Homo sapiens: one gene and its partners. The protein of the gene in region 1 purifies or fractionates together with the protein of each later gene. This does not show direct contact. Each region holds a gene or a part of one and is shown in the gene's direction. Other genes may lie near its edges.

Evidence for each region. Proteins that work in one complex are often made in the same cells at the same time.
Region 2: the proteins of SLC22A8 (region 1) and ATL3 purify together in Homo sapiens (affinity purification with mass spectrometry; one large-scale study listed by BioGRID and IntAct). This does not show direct contact.
Region 3: the proteins of SLC22A8 (region 1) and NDFIP1 purify together in Homo sapiens (affinity purification with mass spectrometry; one large-scale study listed by BioGRID and IntAct). This does not show direct contact.
Region 4: the proteins of SLC22A8 (region 1) and MTX3 purify together in Homo sapiens (affinity purification with mass spectrometry; one large-scale study listed by BioGRID and IntAct). This does not show direct contact.

Annotation. Positions count from the first base shown.
Region 1 is NC_000011.10:62,998,842-63,002,341, reverse strand, and holds part of SLC22A8 (organic anion transporter 3), read left to right. Parts: intron 1-629; exon of another isoform or gene 630-1,295; coding exon of another isoform or gene 1,296-1,400; intron 1,401-1,518; coding exon 1,519-1,622; intron 1,623-2,499; coding exon 2,500-2,654; intron 2,655-3,252; coding exon 3,253-3,421; intron 3,422-3,500. UniProt on the Homo sapiens protein: Functions as an organic anion/dicarboxylate exchanger that couples organic anion uptake indirectly to the sodium gradient.
Region 2 is NC_000011.10:63,626,377-63,629,876, reverse strand, and holds part of ATL3 (atlastin-3), read left to right. Parts: intron 1-471; coding exon 472-558; 3' UTR 559-3,500. UniProt on the Homo sapiens protein: Atlastin-3 (ATL3) is a membrane-anchored GTPase that mediates the GTP-dependent fusion of endoplasmic reticulum (ER) membranes, maintaining the continuous ER network. It facilitates the formation of three-way junctions where ER tubules intersect.
Region 3 is NC_000005.10:142,146,779-142,150,278, forward strand, and holds part of NDFIP1 (NEDD4 family-interacting protein 1), read left to right. Parts: intron 1-3,500. UniProt on the Homo sapiens protein: Activates HECT domain-containing E3 ubiquitin-protein ligases, including NEDD4 and ITCH, and consequently modulates the stability of their targets. As a result, controls many cellular processes.
Region 4 is NC_000005.10:79,984,763-79,988,262, reverse strand, and holds part of MTX3 (metaxin-3), read left to right. Parts: coding exon 1-24; intron 25-1,155; coding exon 1,156-1,313; intron 1,314-2,603; coding exon 2,604-2,692; intron 2,693-3,500.

The DNA of each region.
Region 1 (3,500 bases):
TTAATTAGCTTGATTTAATCACTTCACATTGCATACATATATCAAAACACCACATTGTTTTCATATATGTAATATAATTATGATTTGCCAATTAAAAATGATATAATTTTTTTTAAATAAAAATAAAAAAGAGGCTGGATGTGGTGACTCACATCTGTAATTCCAGTATTTTGGGAGGCCAAGACAGGCAGATCACTTGAGGCCAGGAGTTAGAGACCAGCCTGGGCAACATAGTGAGCTCCTGTCTATATACAAAATCCAAAATTAGCCAGGTGTGGTCATGCACACCTGTAGTCCCAGTTACTTAGGAGGATGGCTTTAGCCCAGGAGACTGAGGCTTCATTGAGCCATGATCATGCCACTGTAGTCAGCCTGGGTGACAGAGTGAGACCCTGTCTCAAAAAAAAATTAATTTAATTAATTAATTAATTAAAAAGAGAAGGTTACCAGTCCCTGAGATTGGGACTTTAATGAGAAGTGGGGTGATAAGTCCCATTGAATCTGGGATGTGCCTGTGACTCTATCCAGGCAGAGTTCTCAAGTGGGACCACTGAATCTACTCCTCTGTGGGTCAGAAGATAGGTTGGGCTGGAGTTGTAGATTTGGAATCTTCAGTATAAAATAGGAATTGAAGCCGCAGGAACAGATGGCATCGCCTGGGGAAAGTGGAGAGAGAGGAGGATTCAGGAAGAGCCCTGGGAAAGCTTCAAGGACTAGGCAGAGAGAAACGAGCTGTGAAGGAGACGAGGAGTGCAGAACAGCAGGAAGCCTGACGGAGGGCGAGATCAGCAGCATCCACATCTGCCAGAGGGCAAGCCAGGCCAGGATTAGGGACGTTCCATTGTGCGCCGTAAAAATGAAACTTCAGTGACCTTGATAAGCACAGATTCAGTGGATGGGTTGGGGGCAGAAGTGAGACATGAAAAGGAGATGAGGATGGAGTGACAGCAAGTACAGCTCCTCGTTCAAAGGATTTGGCTTTGAAGGGAAGAGAGAAATGGAGTGAATGAGGAAAGGAAAGAGGTTTTAAGATGGAGAGATTTGGACACACCTAAATACTGATGAGGAGGAGCAGAGAGAGAGAGAGACTGGATCTGCAGGATGAAGAGAGGTGGCAAGGATAGAGGAACGTCCCTGTAGAGGAGAGAAGGCAAGGTCAAGGGGGTACGCAGAGGGACTGGCCTGGGCTATGTGAGGGGCAGGGAGGAGGCAAACAGGGAAGCAGGCAACTTGGAGAGGAGGAAGCAGTTGAGGCCAGACCTGGATGTGGTAGCTGAGTGGACTTTGAGAGCCATATGACAGGCCACACATGCCTGAGGGATGCAGGTCAGGGGCCGAAGAGCCACAGACAAACCCAAGGAGCTCCGAGCCGGGCTGAAAAAGGAAACGGTCCTTGGGAGGTAGGGGCAAAGTCAGGGCGCTGGGAGAGGAAGCCCACATGTATGAGGCCACAGGCTGAGCATGGCTGAGCAGGCTGTCTACACTGAGTTAGGCTAGCCCTACCTTTCTCTTGTGCAGTGGGACTTGGTGTGCAACTCCAACAAACTGAAGGAGATGGCCCAGTCTATCTTCATGGCAGGTATACTGATTGGAGGGCTCGTGCTTGGAGACCTGTCTGACAGGTGAGACATGGGGGCACAGCCCATGGAAGCATGACCCATGGGGACAACCCTTCCCTACTCTGCTCCACCCGTGCACCCGCAAAGAGGCAAAGAGCTGGGGGAGGGTGGGATGGCTCTTGCTGTGTGGCCTTGGGCAAACCTCACTACCTTTCTGGACCACAGCCTTCTCTCCACCCCAAAGCCCTTACAACTGGAATCTTCCAGCCTTCCTTTTTTTTTTTTTTTTTTTTCTCTTAAGACGGAGTCTCACTCTTATTGCCCAGGCTGGAGTGCGATGGCACAATCTCAGCTCACTGCAACCTCCACCTCCCGGATTCAAGTGATTCTCCTGCCTCAGCCACCCGAGTAGCTGGGATTACAGGCGTGTGTCACCACGCCTGGCTAATTTTTGTATTTTTAGTAGAGACGAGGTTTCACCATGTTGGTCAGGCTGGTCTCAAACTCCTGACCTCAAGTGACCCTCCCATCTTGGCCTCCCAAAGTGCCGGGATTACAGGCATGAACCACCGTGTCTGGCCTCCAGCCTTCCCTTCTTCCAGGGGAAAAAACCTCCAGGTTTTGGGACACAGCGTAGTGGCTGTGTAGCAGTGGAGGCAGAGGAGATGGACTGCTTAGAGATGGGCGGTCCTTTGACCCCTGCTCAGTCAGCTAAGCTGAGGCGGATGTAGAGGAGATCACTCATTAACTCAAACCTCTAATTGCAAACTTGTCAAAAATAGCAATTACCAAGAAAGCTGTGTCTGGGGAGGGAGCTTTATGTGCCCAACAGGGAAAGGTTGGGGGTCGGATTCAGCCCTTTGCCCCACAGCATGCAGAGTCACTCCTCTTGGCAGGCACACTGTGGCTAACCTGGCCCCTCCTCTCCTTCGAGCTACAGGTTTGGCCGCAGGCCCATCCTGACCTGCAGCTACCTGCTGCTGGCAGCCAGCGGCTCCGGTGCAGCCTTCAGCCCCACCTTCCCCATCTACATGGTCTTCCGCTTCCTGTGTGGCTTTGGCATCTCAGGCATTACCCTGAGCACCGTCATCTTGAGTGAGCTGCAGTGGGGCATGGAGCTGGGCTTTGGGGAGCACCATCCAGAAGCCAAAAGAGAATGGGGTCTGGGTCTGGCTCAACCACAGGCTCCCTGTGACCTTGGTCAAGGTGCCACCCCCTCTCAGGACCTCAGAGGCCTCACTTAAATTTAAAAATGACAACAAGCATAGTAATAGCAGCTGTCAATACTGAGGACTTACCCTGGACCTGACACTCTGCTAGGTACACAATCTCATTCAATACCACTTGCAAGTAAGTGACACTATTATTCCCATTTTACAGATCAGGAAACTGAGGCAGAACAAGGAAAGTCACTTGCCACTGGAGAAGCAGTGGTTAAGAGCATGAGTTTGGAAACAGACACACCTAGGTTTGAGTCCTATCGCCTTGAGCCTCAGCTGTGGCATCTGTAAAATGGGGATGATGAACTTAGGGTCAGCATCAGAACAGCAGGAAGACCCAACGGAGGGCGATATCAACAGCATCCGTGGGGAGGATGTCAGTAGCCGTGGGGATGCAGAAGCTGGTGCCCCTTCACGCGGAGGTGCCTGGGACCTAGCAGAACACTAATCTGGTGCTTGGACTCCTCCCACAGATGTGGAATGGGTGCCTACCCGGATGCGGGCCATCATGTCGACAGCACTCGGGTACTGCTACACCTTTGGCCAGTTCATTCTGCCCGGCCTGGCCTACGCCATCCCCCAGTGGCGTTGGCTGCAGTTAACTGTGTCCATTCCCTTCTTCGTCTTCTTCCTATCATCCTGGTATGTGGCCCTCTCCTCTTCATCTGTTTCCTTAGGTGCCCCAGGGCCAAACAGGGGAGCCCATACCTGCCCAGGCTGG
Region 2 (3,500 bases), 630 kb from region 1:
GGAGACGAGGTCTTGCTTTGTCACCCAGGCTGGTATCTTAGCTCATTGTAACTTAAAACTCCTGGGCTCAAGTGATCCTCCCACCTCAGCCTCCCAAGCAGCCGGTGTTACAGGCGAGTGCCACCACACCTGACTAACCCAGTAGCTCTTGGACATTGACATGGTCACAAGTTTTGTAGATCTTTGAGATGATACATTTGTTTTTCTGAGTAACATGAACAGGTGAGTTGGGTTAGCAGCTTGTGAAGCCACAGGAGCTGCCTATCCTACCCTAGCCACAGAGCAGATGTTCCCCTGGCTCTCTTGGGAGTTAGCTGCTGCCACAGCCTCTCTGTATCCCTGCATTTTCATTCAACTGCTTTCTGTAACATGCCGATGATGGAGACAGGTTTTTGAAAGTTTAAGGACTTACTTTCTTGTTGCTGTGTTGTATTTTATTAACTTATATGTTGAATAAATGGACTTTTGCAGGCTTCTTCTCATATCGGTAATTCCACTCAGGCCACTGTGAGGGATGCAGTTGTTGGAAGACCATCCATGGATAAAAAAGCTCAATAGCATCTTAACGTGAAGATCAAACAAGAACACAACAAGCCCCTACTGATTTCTGGGTTTCTGCCACGGCCACAGGTTCATATCCAGAGGAATGGCAGATCTGAGACGATCCAGGAAGAGCTAAAACATGGCCCTGTAATAAATGAGCAGACCTCTCCTGTGGTTTCAAATTATTAAACACACTTCCATTTCTCTTGGAAGCATTTCTTTTCCTTGCTGTTATAGATGCAAGCCTGTGTCTATTTTCATATTACTCTGCTTTGTGCACTTTATGGAGGAGGAAGCTAGAGGAAAAATGGAAATGCAGCTTTTAAGTTCTTTATGTGCCACTTAGTGCCTTTTAAGATTGATTCCATGGTTTTGCACACACGATGGGGAGGGGATGGAGGATAACCTCATGAAAGGTGCCGTTTTCGGGTGAAACTTGACATTTCTTTTATACTTTACTCTTTTGAGAAGGATTCTTTTTTTTTTTTTTTTTTTTTTTGAGTTGGAGTCTCGCTCTGTCACCAGGCTTGAGTGCAGTGGTGTGATCTTGGCTCACTGCAACCTCTGCCTGCCGGGTTCAAGCAGTTCTCCTGCCTCAGCCTCCCAAGTAGCTGGGACTACAGGTGTACGCCACCATACCCAGCTAATTTTTTTGTATTTTTAGTAGAGATGGGGTTTCACCATGTTGGCCAGGATGGTCTTGGTCTCTTGACCTTGTGATCCGCCTGCCCGCCTTGGCCTCCCAAAGTGCTGGGATTACAGGCGTGAGCCACCGTGCCCGGCCAAGAAGGATTCCTTTTTTAAAAGTTTACAGAACTTGGAGAAACTTCAGAACTAAAGACTAACTGAAAATGATGTCATTACACTCAAAAAAAATTTACAATAGGGAATCCTGTTGCCACATAGTGTGGAAAAATCATGTCATATTTAAATATACCATACTCTGAAATGTGAGGTTTTTACCCAGTAGGCTGACAGTTTTGTTGCAACTTGCTCTATTTTTTTTTTTTTTTTGGTCCCTATAGCTTCTTTCTAGAAAAAGAGGCAAACGTGCCTTGAAAAGCCAGAGTGGCTCATAATAAAAGGAATGCGCTAGATACTTCAAGAAAAAAGCTAAGTTTAAATGAACCATGTGACCTCTGATAAGTCACTTGAACTTGTGCCTTGGTCAGGTTCACTGTAGGTTTACATATGTATGTATGTTTTACACAACTCTTGTAATTGTCATTTGAGGGGTTTTGTTTTTGAGAGTTCTGCATAAGAACAGAACTTTATTAAGGATTAGAGGGAAGATACAAATATTACTGCGTTTAATTGATGTCTAATTTCATGTGGCTTAGCAGCAATTAATAACCTGATTTAAGGTCTTTATTCAGAATGTTAATTTGCATTCTCTGCCGTGTCTAATGTTCTTAATAATGAAGCTAAAATTAACCCATTTTATTTAGTGAATTATCTATTTAATTTTACTTTGGCTAGTCTGGTAGCTTTAAGATAGCTTTGCCTTAGCAAGGATCAAAGTCCTACCCAAATATAAAAAATATCTAGAAGTATCTAAGAGTTCTTTTTTTCTATTTACCTTGATTAGGAGATAAAAGTTTTATCTGTTAGTTGCTTTTCCTTTTGGAATTATTGTGGATTTTAAAACTTAAAACTTGCCTGCAAGTATTTATATAAACATTCAGGTATATAAGCCTTAATTTCTAAGATAATTTAACTTTTGTTATGGGAGGGAGGTAAGAGTGTAAATTTTATATACATGAAGGTAAGATCTGAGTGTAAACTTTACATACATGAAGTATGAATGGAAGGTAGAAAAAAAGTCCCTTTTCGCATGTAATCTCTTTATCAAAGAATTTTCTTTTGACACTTTACCACTGAAGTATTTTTGTAAGTCCTAAATTCGCAGCATATTGTTTCATATTTATATGCCATCTTGCAAATAGTTCTTGCTATTTTATTCACTGCTGTTACACTTTAGAAAAATTCCAGCTTGTTTACTTGCATTTATCAGTGATGCCAACCAAGCTTTGACTGTTAACTTGAAAGCTTGCTTCTGAAATGTTGGTGCATTTTCAGGTGACCTCTTATCTCTCTGAAAGTTCATACCTATTAGCAGGCTCTGTAAATATTGACATACTTAGCTTTTAATACATTCTATAAGTAAATTTATAGATTTCAGAATAACTTAAAAAATTTAATGGTAAGAAGGGGTGATGTGTCGAAAACTCATACTAAAGTATTAGGTCACTTTAAAAAAAGTGATAATGTATGATTTAATGAAATCTTAAGATTCAGTTACTATTTAAATTCACCATTTCTGTTTTGGTCTTATAAAGAGACCTTGGTTTAATTATCCAGAGGAAGTCCTCTTCACCATTTTTTTTTTTTCTTAGTTCTGCTTCTGGAAAGTGTTTTATAAAGTTTTCTCAGTGAGGGTTCTTAAGAGTTTTCTTTGGCCTCTTTTCTCTCAACAGTAAATTGATGATTTTATATCAGCTTTTTCAATAAAAGATGCATTATCATTACTGGCTATAAATCATCCTGGGGAGATTTATAACCAGGTTAAAAATAATATCTTTTACTTCTCTCACCTTTTACTTGTGGTTCAGATGCTCAGACTGTGCCTGTTTGCGTCGTGTCTGTTGCTCTGCCGCTTTCCATGCAGGCATTTTTAATTTTACACAATCCTAACAATATATGGAACTCATTCCTATGAATATATAAAAGGAGGCTTCCAAAATTTTCTATTAAAATATTTCAGGATAAATTAAGTGTTGATAATTTGAAAAAATAATTTCAATGAGCTGCTTATAGTAAAAATGGTAGAATCAGAGTTTTCATTCTTTGAGAAATCTTTCTGTAAGATTGGCTCATAGATAAAATGAGACAAACTACTATGTATGATAAAACACCTTCAGAGTCATGCCTTGTTTTATTTTATTTTATTTTTTGAG
Region 3 (3,500 bases), on another chromosome or scaffold:
AAATAGCAGCCCAGTTGACAGAAAGCCTGAACGTCTCAGTTTTCCTGTGTTGTTTGGTGCTTTACTGAAAATTTTGTTGTTATTGTTTGGATTTTCTAAAATTTCTGAAATGTTTTTTGATATTCTAAATTTAAAACTATGTATGTGGGGTTGTGATTTGAAGTAGGCAGTCCTTAGTAATAATAATGTTGTAGGAAGTACTAAGGGAGATTCAAGTGTTGAGCCTGCTGGTGCTTCAGGAGTGTACGTTAAGAGTTGTCAGAAACTTTCTCAGAGGTAAATGAATGCACACCATTGGAGGGCATAATAGAGTTTATTTGCTTTTCTATTTAACTGTGATACCCTGGTTTATTTGAAATCATTCCTGACACACCCAGAGAATTCAGAGCTCTAAATTAAGGGTTTGAGGAACTTACAGCAGAATTTAGAATTCTAATGACTTCACTAATTTTCCAGGGATCCCCAGAGGGAACCTGAAAAGCCATAATATCCTATGGGACTGAGTTCCCTTTGTCCACTGAAAGGGTAAGAACTCTGTCCAGATCCAGATGTAGAATCCCTTCTTTCTCTAGTTCAGAGGACATTTAGTTTAATTTTGTTAGAAGACATACTAGAAAACCGTCATGTGAAGTAAGAAAGCTTTATTTTTTTCCTCCCTATCGATTCTTTATTATGCTTATCACAGTTTTTAAAAAGTAATTATCTGCTAATTCCAACATCAGGTTAGATAAGTCTATTTGTATTGATGGATTTTTCTCTTGACTCTGGGTTACATTTTCCTGTTTTTACACACCTGGCCAGTTATTTCTTTGTTGCAGCATTGTTAATTATCATGTTGTAGAGATTATGAGCTCTGAATTTTGTCAGAAGGTTGTTGAGTTTTTGCCTAGCAGGCAGTCAAATTACTAAAGGATAAATTTGATCTTATTTCTAACTGTCATGTACAGTGATTCTTCTAGGGAGATAGGGATAGGGGAGAGGGAAAATGTAGTTTAAAAATCCTAGGCTAACTCCTGCTGAGGAAAATCACTGGTAAACTAGTGACTACTCTGCTAAATTGCCTCTCTTGACATTGTCAACCTGAAGCCATCAAAAGGATCAGAATACAGAGTTTATGCAAGTAGAAAGCTGGGAATGGCCAATCAGAGAACACAAACTTTAGAAAATGGGGTCAGTGTTCCCAAAAGCTTTATTTTCTTTTATGGACTTCTACTTCTTTGATGGAGATGTCACCAATTAAAAGGTAGCTGAAGAAAGACACAGGTAGGGAATTTTTAAAATAACTTTGCCAGAAAGATACAGATACAGAATTTTTAAAATAACTTTACCAAAACAGAAAAATAATATACTTTCCATATTGTACTAAGATTTGGCATTTTACTAGAAAAGGGCATAAGAATAGTGACTTTTCTAGTCAGGCTACCTGAAATATAGTACAAATAAACCAATCTTGAAGTGATCCCAAAACACCTCCTTCTAATCAGTCAAAGTAGATATTACAAAAGCTAAACATTAAAGCTCATGTACTACTATCATAGGGGCAGCTCTCAGGTTCCTTTTCAGAGTCCATTTAAGCTTAAGGGAGGGAAAAATGTATTAATAAGCTGTTATCTGTTTTCCTACTTCATAACAAAATGCCAGAAGGAACTGCTAAAGGTGTGCACAGTGGCCATCAAGAAGTATGTGACTGGGCCGGGCGCAGTGGCTCACGCCTGTAATCCCAGCACTTTGGGAGGCCGAGGTGGGCAGGTCACCTGAGGTTAGAAGTTTGAGACCAGCCTGGGCAACATGACAAAACCCCGTCTCTACTAAAGATACAAAAATTATCTGGGTGTGGTGGTGTGCACCTGTAATCCCAGCTACTTGGGAGGCTGAGGCAGAAGAATCGCTTGAACCCAGGAGGTGGAGGTTGCAGTGAGCCAAGATCACACCACTGCACTCCAGCCTGGGCGACAGAGCGAGACTCTGTCTCAAAAAAAAAAAAAAAAAAAAAAAAAAAGTATGTGACTGAGGAAGCAGAAGAAACAGATACCTGTTATAAACATCTGTACCTGAAATGGTAAAAAATGTAAAGTGTTTATACTTTTCTTATTTACCAGTTCACTGGAAAATACATTTTTATGGATTACCACCTCCTCTGATGCTGCCAGGTGAATGAGGAGTTAGCTACAGTAATAAGGTGGTAACACAGTTGATTGGTTATATCTAACACTATTTGTGTGGTACCAAAAGCACTTGTACATATGAAGCATAATATATTTTAAAATTATTTATTTTAACTGCATCTGAAATAGAAGGAAAAAAGGAGGTTTTTGAGCCCTAGCATTAATGAGCTAGGGCCTTCATAATTAAAAAAGTGACCTAGTGAGCTGTACCTATTAGGCATCAAATATTTTAATTTTTTTCCATGTGATAACAGACACTTTCATTTCTCCTTTTCTGTAATTTTTCTCCTGTTCCTTAATACTTCTTTTATTTTATTAAAGGAAATTCATCTCAAGGTAAAGGTTTACTTATTGGACTATGTTATAAGATAGCAAGATAATAGGGAAATGGTGTTTCCAGTAGAATTTTTGCTAAACAAAATTTACATGTCTCCAAGAAGAACTGGTTGTCTTCCTCTTGGAATTAAATGATCTGTAGGCTATTGGATTCCTTTTTTTTTTTTTTTTTTTTTACAAAGTGATCTGATCTATAATTTAGTAATACGGTCCAGAGTCCCTAAGATCTGTTTGTTCTTCAGTTTGTGTACTGCCAGCATTTCTGTAACACTGCCACTCAAGCCTCCAAGTCTCAGACAGCAGTGCCCTCTAGCAGTCTTTCATTTGGAGATTGTGTGGTGATTGAGATTACCCACTGGTGACCTCTCTAGGTCCTCTTGAGATATTTTATTTTAATTTAATTTTTACTTCTCTTACTGAACAAGCAAAGGGATTTTTAATGTTTGTTGGGTGTCAGGCTTTGACTTTGAGGGATCTATTAAAGCTGTTTACCTATGCTAAAGCATCATAAACTAAGGAAGTGGCCAGGTAATTGTCCGTACCATATTGTATATTCTTGCAAACTCTGTTTTGACCTACTAGTCACTGTTTCATCAGTTTTCATCTATTAAAAGAAACTGGGCCAGGCATGGTGGCTCACGCCTGTAATCCCAGCACTTTGGGAAGCCAAGGCGGGCAGATCACGAGGTCAGGAGATCAAGACCATCCTGGCTAACACAGTGAAACCCCGTCTCTACTAAAAATACAAAAAATCAGCTGGGTGTGGTGGCGGGCGCCTGTAGTCCCAGCTACTCGGGAGGCTGAGGCAGGAGAACAGCATGAACCCGGGGGGCGGAGCTTGCAGTGAGCCGAAATTGTGCCACTGCACTCCAGCCTGGGTGATAGAGCGGGACTCCGTCTCAAAAAAAAAAAAAAAAAAAATATATAGAAACTGATAAAACAAATTATTTATGTTTATAATGAGTCTGGCCTCATTGCAAAAACATTCATTTAATATTC
Region 4 (3,500 bases), on another chromosome or scaffold:
ATCTCAGTTTTTCTTTGGAGATACGTGAGTATTCCCTTAAAAATCATTTTGGTATTTTGTGCACATATATTCAGTGAGCAGCTATTTAAAGCAAGTCCTCTTATCTCCCCAAAAGATGAGTTTTTTACTTAAAAAAAACAAGATTTAGGCCGGTGTGGTGGCTCATACCTGTAATCACAGCACTTTGGGAGGCCGAGTTGGGCAGATCACCCGAGGCCAGAAGTTCAAGACCAACCTGCCCAACATGGCGAAACCCCATCTCTACTAAAAATACAAAAAATTAGCTGCGTGTGGTGGTGGGCACCTGTAATCCCAGCTACTTGGGAGGCTGAGGCAGGAGAATCGCTTGAACCTGGGAGGTGGAGGTTGCAGTGAGCTGAGATCACGCCACTGCACTCCAGCCTGGGTGACAAGAGTGAAACTCCATGTCAAAAAACCAAAACAAACAAGAAAAAAATTTAATGGGCTTTTATTATAGGAAACTTTTTCTACCAGTGATAATCTAACATTGACTTAATAGGCTGCATATGTGAATTTAAAACATCTCAGACTGTTCCCACTCTGCCTCCAGTCTAACATTTGTGAGTAAAAATGAATCTATAAAGACAATTTCATTTTCTCCTAGAGTCTAAGCTACTCAATGAGTAAAACCTTGGTTGCATAATTTTTGTAAACTGAAATGGATAGTAAACCTTTTAAGAGACTATACTGTGTAATTCAGAATTGAGAATTTTGAAAAAAAAATTAAACACCATCCCAAGTTAGTATTTTCTTATGTGCTTAAAAAAATCCTTAATTTAATTTTTTTTTTTTTTTTTTTTTGAGATGGAGTCTTGCTCTTGTTGCCCAGGCTAGAGTGCAGTGGCATGATCTTGGCTCATTGCAACCTCCGCCTCCTGGGTTCAAGCAATTCTCCTGCCTCAACCTCCCAAGTAGCTGGGTTTACAGGTGCCCACCACCACGCCCGACTTCTTTTGTATTTTTAGTAGAGACAGGGTTTCACCATGTTGGCCAGGCTTATCTGGAACTCCTGACCTCAAGTGATCTGCCCCCGCTTGATCTCCCAAAGTACTGGGATTACAGGCATGAGCCACCACACCCGGCCTTCAGTTAATATTGTCTTATGTGCTTTAAAAATCCTTAATTTATTTCTAGGCCTTCTACCTTGGATGCCTATGTTTTTGGTTTTCTTGCACCTCTTTACAAAGTACGGTTTCCTAAAGTTCAGCTACAAGAACATCTGAAACAGCTCTCCAACCTCTGTCGCTTTTGTGATGACATCCTGAGCAGTTATTTTAGGCTTAGTCTTGGAGGTAAGCTGGCTCTTTTTCAGCTAATGTTTGTTTGCATATTCTCCTATGTATGTATAAGCAAAATCCACTACTTATTTTAATTTTAGAAGTTTGTGTATTGTCTTTAAATAGTGGTTTATAGCACTTCAAGGATTTGTGTTTTTCCGACTTCATTTTTATTCTCATGTTAGTTCTTATTTAAATAGATAAATAGATATTTGCCTTTTATCTATTCCGCTGGATTTTTACGTTTCTTCTTCTTGTTCTTTAAATATTACCCCTTTGAAGTGGGTCATTTTCTTCTAAAAGGTTAAAACCACAGGTATTAAGTCTTTGCTGAAAAACAGTATTTATCCTAATGCAAATGGACAATTACTTTAAATGATTTTTACCTGCTGCTTCTAGCATTTTCCTGCATGAACAGAAATCAGCAGCAGATTGATTTTGGTGAGGTACACTGCCATGATTCCACTACTTGAAAACTGATTGCATCAGAATGGAAGTATAGTAAATAGAGGGCACCTGTTACTTAGGATGTGCTTCATTGAGAGAGTGGAGCCTTGTGCTTAAGTGATTCAGATACTAAATTTCTATTGGGATGGTTGGCTGAAATTGTCCTTTTAAGAAACAGGTTATAAAGATAGCTGGCTTAGGTGGACAGTTTATTATTTTTTGGTGGGTTATGTATTCTGTATACAGGAAGGGGTTAGTAGTTTGGGAGTCATGAAATTAAGTAATGTTCAACCGTGTTAACTTGGGAGCAGTGGTTAGCAAACCTGATTATTTGACAGATAAAAAATCTTGGGTCCTATTCCAGACTTACTAAATTAGAATCTTTTAGGCATCAATCCTAGGAATTTGTATTTTTAAGTTCTTCTGAATACTTTGGATGTCTGGTGGGCAACTTTTTGGGAGTTACTGCCTTAGAAAACTATCCAGATAGTTGTGACCAAAGACCTATTTGAAATGGGTGTGAGAAAGGAATAGCTTAAACTTGAGAAGGAAATGAGGACTACTGTGCTTTTTTTTTCAAAAAAAAAAAAAAACTAATTATTGTGGCCAATTGCAGAACACTTGGTTAGCAGTGTCTACTTAGTGGATAAATTTTTGTCCGTTTTGCTCAGGGTTTAGTTTTAGAGCATTCGAATCCCTCTCTTCGCCTTTAAACCCAGAATGGTTTTCCTCTTTGCCTTTTTTGGGGAGGGTGGGGCACTGGACAGGGTGGGTAGACTCAAAATTCTTTCAATCTAAATAGCTTTAAAGGCTTTAAAAATTTCCTGTCTTTCTCTGATTTCTGTCCTGGCTTCTTAGGCATCTCTCCAGCTGGACAAGAAACGGTAGATGCAAATCTGCAGAAACTCACACAACTTGTAAATAAGGAATCCAACTTGATTGAAAAGGTCAAGTCTACTTCAATCATTTTATCATAGTTCAGTATTTTCCTTTCGGTAGCTAATATTGTCATTTGGGTCACACATTAACTGTACCCTTTTAGTTTTTTTTATAGAGTTTGTTTTTCAGAAAACTGTTTAAATATACTTTCACTAAAGTTGTATGTAACATAGTGTTTTGAAGCCAACAGTGGCCTGATTGGGGAAAGATCAGATAAGAGTATTGGGTTTACTTTTGCCACACAGTTAGTACCCTTTAAGCTAGGAAATCCAAAAGATTTGCTTTAAAAAAACAAAGCGGCCGGGCGCGGTGGGTCACTCCTGTAATCCCAGCTCTTTGGGAGGCCGAGGCGGGCAGATCATGAGGTCATGAGATCGAGACCATCCTGGCTTATACGGCGAAACCCCGTCTCTACTAAAAATACAAAAAATTAGCCGGGCATGGTGGCGGGCGCCTGTAGTCCCAGCTACTCAGGAGGCTGAGGCAGGAGAATGGCATGAACCCGGGAGGCGGAGCTTGCAGTGAGCTGAGATCGTGCCACTGCACTCCAGCCTGGGCAACGGAGCGAGACTCCATCAGAAAAAACACAAAAAAAAACAAAGCAAAAACACTTCTTGCTTGTGTGTCTGCCTCTCTGTCTCTTAATGTTTCTTAAGATTGTAAGCACTGGGCTTATCCTTTCTTATTAACAGCACCGTGTTCTTTTCTTCTTTCCACATGAAAGTTTTATTTTTTTCTCCTTCTTGTTCTTCTCTGCTCTAGATATAGTTTATAGTTTTTTCACCAGTGTAGATATTTTGCCACTTGGGGTGTTCT